Homo sapiens: one gene and its partner. The protein of the gene in region 1 purifies or fractionates together with the protein of each later gene. This does not show direct contact. Each region holds a gene or a part of one and is shown on either strand. Other genes may lie near its edges.

The links.
Region 2: the proteins of PGM2L1 (region 1) and PITPNB fractionate together in Homo sapiens (co-fractionation; one large-scale study listed by BioGRID). This does not show direct contact.

Annotation. Positions count from the first base shown.
Region 1 is NC_000011.10:74,349,612-74,353,649, forward strand, and holds part of PGM2L1 (glucose 1,6-bisphosphate synthase), read right to left. Parts: intron 1,966-4,038; coding exon 1,772-1,965; intron 1-1,771. UniProt on the Homo sapiens protein: Glucose 1,6-bisphosphate synthase using 1,3-bisphosphoglycerate as a phosphate donor and a series of 1-phosphate sugars, including glucose 1-phosphate, mannose 1-phosphate, ribose 1-phosphate and deoxyribose 1-phosphate, as acceptors.
Region 2 is NC_000022.11:27,856,757-27,860,256, forward strand, and holds part of PITPNB (phosphatidylinositol transfer protein beta isoform), read right to left. Parts: intron 3,486-3,500; coding exon 3,375-3,485; intron 1,754-3,374; coding exon 1,631-1,753; intron 1-1,630. UniProt on the Homo sapiens protein: Catalyzes the transfer of phosphatidylinositol and phosphatidylcholine between membranes. Also catalyzes the transfer of sphingomyelin.

The DNA of each region.
Region 1 (4,038 bases):
TAGAAACCACAGTCTGGGCTTTAGGGGTAGGCATTGGCCTTTTTAGTAACAGAACTAGTATTTTGGTATTTTAGGTAAATAAAACATATTTCAAATTCAAATTTAAAATTATAATTTTAAAATTATTTTATTTGATTTTACATTCACTTCTCTTAAACTAAAATCTTAGATCCTAGTGACATTAACATAATTACCCATTTGTTTTATCATATATATGTGTATGTCTATATATTTATTTATATCTACATCTGTAAAATCATCAATATTACCACTAACAGTACAGCTATCAAATAAAATTTGAGGTTTCTTTGTAGTTCTTTATCCTTAGGACATATCCCACTAGAAATACATAGTCAATAACTGTAAAGTCACTTGAAATAATTCTTCTCTGTGTAATTATGCCTTCAGCTTGATAAATAGTTAGGTTCACTTGTTAATTTGCTTTTGCCCATATACTCTTTAAAAAACAAAAATGTAAATAAGAAAAGACAGAAAGGATAAAAAAGGAATCAAATTCTTTTTAGATTGATTAGAGCTGGTAGCATTTAGCTAGTATTACTGTCACTTATTTTAGACGGAGAAGCAAACAGTTGACAGCTTGATGGGTATACTTTTGAAATTAAAATAAAGTTGAGAAAAAGCTAAAATTATTTTGTAGGATAGGAAAAATACACTCAGCTAGCCAGGATTCTTCCTAGCAATAGTGTTAGCTATTTACAGAAGAGTTACAGAGATAATTATGGAAATATGGAAATGGTTAAGGAAAAATAAACTCTTAAGAGAAATGTACTGATCTAACATAGAGGAAATACATATATTTAAGTATAACTTGTTTAACAGCTTTTTTGAGATATAATTCACATACCATATAATTCACCCATTTAAAGTGTGCAATTCAATGGCTTTCGCTATATTCATAGAGTTGTTCAACCATGACTATGATCAATTTTAGAACATTCTCACTACTCCTGAAAGAAACTCTAGGCTGGGCATGGTGGCTCACACCTGTAATCCCAGCACCTTGGGAGGCTGAGGCAGGCGGATCACCAGAGGTCAGGAGTTCGAGACCAGCCTGGCCAACATCATGAAACCTTGTCTCTACTAAAAATACAAAAATTAGCCAGGCATGGTAGTGGTTGCTTGTAGTCCCAGCTACTTCGGAGGCTGAGGCAGGAGAATTGCTTGAACCCAGGAAGCGGAGGTTGCAGTAAGCCCAGATCGTGCCACTGCACTTCAGCCTGGGTGACAAGAGCGAGACTCTGTCTCAAAAAAAAGGAAAGAAAGAAAGAGAGAGAGAGAGAGAGAGAAAGAGAGAGAGAGAGAGAGAAAGAAACTAACTCTATAACCTATAGCTTCCAGCCCCCAACCCTTTCATTCCTTCCAGCCACAAGAAACCTCTAATCTATTTCTGTCTCTATAGATTTGCCTATTCTACATATGTCATATAAATGGAATCATACAATATGTGGTTCTTTGTGACTGGCTTCTTTCACTTAGCATGATGTTTTCAAGGTTTATCCATGTTGTGGTATGTGAGTAGTTCATTTATTTTTATTGCTGAATAATATTTCATTGTATGGATATACCACATTTTACTTATCCATTCATTAGTTAATGGTTACTTGGGTTATTTCCACTCTTTGACTCTTATGAGTACTATTTAGCTATAATTTTAATCTAATAAATAGACAACACTTTTTATCACTTTTTATTCTCCTCATTCTTTAACGTTATTCTGAAGTAGTATTATCTGATATTCTCACTTGGATACCTGTAAAAACAGATCTTTTTCAGATCTTCCATGTATCTCCTGCAAATGTCCTGCAGAGGGTCTCTCTTCAGCGGGCTGGTATCCACTAAATTATCATTCCAGGAACCATTCCAGGGTTCCACACATTCTTCTATACATTTTAGAATTTCTTTATCATGAGGAGATGTGATCTGAGCACCAGTTTCCCAGTAAACCTAGATGATAAGTAAATATAACCATAATTACTTAAAATGCTTGCCAGATCTTTTCTTGTCTATAGTTGAGATCTTCAGCTTTATTAAAAAGCATATCAAATTGAGGCCAGGCACGGTGGCTCACGCCTGTAATCTCAGCACTTTGGGAGGCTGAGGCGGGCAGATCACGAGGTCAGCAGATCGAGACCATCCTGGCTAACGTGGTGAAACCCTGTCTCTACTAAAAATACAAAAAATTAGCCGGGTGTGGTGGCAGGCGCCTGTAGTCCCAGCTACTCGGGAGGCTGAGGCAGGAGAATAGCATGAACCCCGGAGGCGGAGCTTGCAGTGAGCTGAGATAGCGCCACCACACTCCAGCCTGAGCTACAGAGCGAGACTCTGTCTCAAAAAAAAAAATAAATAAAAATAAAAATAAAAATAAAGCATATCAAATTGATCAAATAAAAAATGTCAACATAGGAGGACTAATTTAATAAATATTAAAAGATATAGATAGTAATGACTCTACAGGGACTCTTCAATCAAATGATTATATATGATTTTCTTTTAGAAGTATACCTTAATAACAATATGAGTAAAATACAAGCAGGGCTAATTATTATGATAACATTATAATATGCATATGCCATAGTATCCAATTATACTCTTAAACCTATAACTATCTACTAAAGATAATCCAAGAAACCACAGACTATTCCCTAAAACTTGATACTATTTAACTTAACATTATAAAGTAGTTATGTGATATAGAAAAAAGTCATATTTCTATTATAAAGTAGAATTTATATCATACCAAATATAGTTTATTAACAATTAATGTGTTAATTATCCATATAAATTTCAATGAGCTTTCAGTTTGTCAAGTAGCCTGATCAATAAGACATTAGGAACAGTTACCAAAAAAGCATGAAAATGTAATTCTATTAATTTATAGGATTTCAAATTTGGAAGGTTAGAGAATATCTATGGTGACTTCTACCATGCATATGACACAAATCCCCTCTATTGCATCCTGAATGAAGGAAAGAAGAATACATTTGAATCTGTGCTATGTACTAATCTCTATGCAAAGAATATGGTTAACCAGATGACCTAAAAACCTGTTCTCTATAAACACCTCAAAATGCTACATAAAACAGAAAAAACATTATCTTAAATGCACAGCATAATTCACAAGAGGAAAGGGACGACTCCAGGCAGTGGGAAAAAAATAATTAAAAAGCAGAATGATAAGCCTGTGGGACTGATATTGTGGTTACCTGGGGTTTGAGAACTGTCCATTTATCTGGTTCTTGGATTGTAATGCCCATGTGCAAGGTAGGGAGTTGGAACTGAGACCCCCAAATAAAAATGGCATCCTTGAAGCATTTCACTCTCAGTGAAAATGCAGAATAGAAAAAGTCCTGCCCACTATTACAGAGATCATGAGGAAGCATGTCTCTTCTTGAGTTCTGGGTAATTAAAAAAATTTTCAAATCCAAGGTCTGCACTTCAGTTATTTTAGGATGAGAAACAATAAATTAACACAGAAACTGCCCCCAGTCAGTGAAATCCTTGAGGTTCTAGCAGAATTTTTAAAACAAACAAAAAACCCAGAATGTTTTTTTGTGTGTGTGTGTGTTGTATTGAATATTTTAATATCCTAACAGAAAGCAGATTTACAATATCTTTGTAGTGTTTGGACAACTTAATTTAGTTAATTACAATTTGAATGTTAAAATTTCGACTGATCTTTTCTCTCAGATAATTTAAATGTAAATTTTTTTTTTTTAAGTATTTATTGATCATTCTTGGGTGTTTCTCGGAGAGGGGGATTTGGCAGGGTCATAGGACAATAGTGGAGGGAAGGTCAGCAGATAAACATGTGAACAAGGGTCTCTGGTTTTCCTAGGCAGAGGACCCTGCGGCCTTCCGCAGTGTTTGTGTCCCTGGGTACTTGAGATTAGGGAGTAGTGATGACTCTTAAGGAGCATGCTGCCTTCAAGCATCTGTTTAACAAAGCACATCTTGCACCGCCCTTAATCCATTTAACCCTGAGTGGACACAGCACATGTTTCAGAGAGCAAGGGGCTG
Region 2 (3,500 bases), on another chromosome or scaffold:
TCTGTTTCATGTTCAGTGGACACCCACCAGCTGCTTGGAAGAGCCAAAGGCAGAGCTGGCAGGTATTCCTGAAGCCTTGGGCACTTGGAGGGAGTGAAACCAGACAAGGCAAATGGGACTAAAACTGGATAGGGTAGCGAGGGCCAGGGGGGTGCTTGTTAGAGTCAGAGAAAGGCACCTGACTCTTGAAAAAGGGAACACAGAAGTGGGAGAGAGGCCTAGAAAGAAAGGTAGGAAGTGCCCATGATCTGCTCTTGCCTATTTAAGTGTTTTGCCTGTGGCTAGACTAAAAATAAGGAATGAGGGGGGTATCTTCCACTCTTGCCATCTCATCACCCTATTCCCTATATCCAGAACTCAGAGTCCTAATATTAGTATGAGAAATTGGGGTCAAAGAGGCATATTATGCTGGCTAGTCTAGAAACCAAACCCTAATTTATAACATTGTCTCTATGGGAAAATATGTTCCAAATTTCAAACAATCAACTTAAAATTTTTTGGAACAAAATCCATTCATAAGTTGGAGTCTGCCTATAGTTTACTTTATGTATAAGATAAGGTTAAAATATTTTATTGCCTTATAAAGAAAATATGTCCTAGTCCTCTCAGAAGGTTTATATAAAACTAATTAGAAGCAGATCTGCTGTAATCACCAAAAGTAAGCAATTTTAAACAGATTCTTTACGATGCTATGTGCCAGAAAAATAGGTTTCCTTTTGTGCCAAAGAATCTGATTTGCTGCCATTCTCCTGTGATTAAATGGAGTTTCTGCCTCACACGCAGGCGTCTGTCAAACGCTCACACCTGCAGGGCTTCCAAAACTGGACCTGCTGGCAGGACTCGAGATGACCACATGGAAACCACTAGCAGGCCCTGGACATTCCTTGGGTTTGTTTCACCCATGGGGCCTTACTGCCAACTGAAGACAAGCATGGCCCAGGGCAAAAACAAAACCAGACACATGCAAGAGGAAGCCAGGGAAGAATCCATCCCGAGGAGAGAGAAGACACCCACTGGCTGCCGGCCCTGCCCACTGGTGGTGGGGAGCAGCTGGGATGGGCTGTAACACTGAACTGTGGCATGCTGACCTCCTGCCCAAGGATCACCTGAATCTGCCCAAAGCTTAGGAAGAAATAAGGATCACTGCCAGTTGGGGGAAGCAGAGGAGGCATTTCCAGAATTAGTAACAATACCATTAGCCTTACCTTTTCTACAAAAAAAGCGAACTAGGACTTATCATGTTAACATTTGTTAAGCTTGCTGTGATACAAACTGAGCCAAAAGCAACTTAGTCTGACAAAGTGTCTAAAACGACTGTGAACCAGGAACCAGCCTACAGAACTAAAGCTAGTGTGTAAGAAAGAATACAGAACCATTAGATATTTAACAGGTAACCAATTCTAGACTGAGAAAACTCTAGTCTACCTTCACGCAAGATGCTCAACAAAAGAGAGATCAGAATATGTGAAGGAATAGCAGTGTCTAAGAAACTCCATTTTGATGAGAATAAGTAGAATAGGGAATGATTTTTAACAACACTCTTCCTAATTCTAACTCTGTATTTACCAAGCATGTATACAGTTTTAGAAAAGGGAAAATTAGAGAATTGCCATAGAACAGCCAGTCTTACTGTTTCTAGTTCTTTCTGAGTCTCGTCTTCCATTCTCCTAATGTCTTCCATCGTGAGATCGATCCACTTGTCAATCCAACAAAAAAGCTGGCGATGGAAGTTTGTAAATATCCGTTTTTCTTGCTTTTAAAACAACAACAAAAAAGTAGCATAAGATGACAAAAACCTAAGATTAATGACACATTAACTTTACATGTTCCAATTAACCCATGAAATTTACACATTTGGTTCAAAAAGACTACTCTGTAGATTTGTGGAAATCATAATTCCATTTAATTATCATTGTGTCCAGCAAAATTAAACAAACAAAAAAAAACTTTCCCTGTGAAATGAAAAATAATCTCCTAGGCAAAGGTGTCATGATCTAGTAGAAACTAAAAAAATGCGGTGTGTATGACCTAATCCAACACATTCCTGCTGGGCCTGATTTATTTTTACCTTTTTCTAAATGTCAATGAGCAAAGGTCAACTAGATTTCTTCTGCTATAAAACTATATATTGTCATTCTTAACATTCACTATGAGGTGGAATACAATAATGCATTGAAAGAAAAGAGTCCTGGGTTCTTTTATTAAATTAAGAATCATTACAAACTCTCCCTTAATTTTTCTACACAACATGTTGCTGCCACTATTATAAATATATTTAAAAACCATGTATATAATTAGCGGTTTCAATTGATGGATTATTTAAGTTTTATTCAGCTTTCCCAAGAAGAGAGAAAAGTGCATGGAACAGTAAGTACTTCTGGACAATATTCAACTTAAAAATCTTCTTCCATGAATAGAAAGGACTTTATCAATTACATATGTGACTTCTATTTATCAGAACTGGATTGTTAATCTATGATTATGATCCGAGAGGAAGGAAGAATGCCAATATTTACAGAATGCTGACTGTAAGCAGGCCCATGAATAATCAAAGTTTCCAGCACTTTGAGATCCTTGTCTTATAAAATACTACAGCAGCTATAGTTTAAAAATAGAAAAGTTATGATGAAACAGACATAACTAATTGTGGAGATCTGAGATATAATGAGGGCTTCTTTATAATAATAACAGAATAAATATTCGCCCTACAGGAAAAGTAAACACCAAGGAAATGTTTCAACATTCCTAGGTAGTAACAACCGTGTGCATTTATAAAATTCCAATTCTCCCCTCCTCCTAGATCTAACTGCCCATGTTACTTTCACTTTAATAAAGAAGACATAAAAAAGAAACAAGTAGAATCTGGATCCTCAGATTGTGTACCTTAGTTCACAGTGTGCCCATTTTTCAGTAAAGACCTCTAAAGAAGACATCCCCTGTGACAGCACAAGGCACACATACATATTCTGAGAGATATGGAGGGTAGGGGGAAGGGTCCAGCTGAGATGGGGCAGGGGAGTCCTTCAGCAGGCTGGGCCCGCTCTCTCCCTCCAGTCAGGATCAGAACACCAGGTCCTCTTGGGGACGTGCTGTATGGGGAAAGGGTTCTCTACAGAAGCGCTGGGCAAACCATAAGGTAAGCACTTTGAACAAAAAGCTGCTGTGCTTGTCTCCAAAGAAAGTCCCTTAAAACCTCTGCTGCCATCTGTCTTTGCTGCTTTGAGGTATAAAGAAGGGCTGAAATGAATTATGTAGGGACAATAATTTTCATATCATAAAGGAGGAAAAAAAGTAATAACAGAGAAGATATCCCATTAATAGCTAGCTCCGATCTCATCCTAAATCTAAGTCACCACATTTTGAGCAGATTTTACCTTTTGAATGAAGTTTTCTACTTTGCTTTGCAGTCCCCACCACTTGAATTTGATGGTCACCAGCTTATAGGCACACATCTGGGGACAGTCAGGGCTGTTTGCCAGCTCCTTCTAGATGAGAAAAAT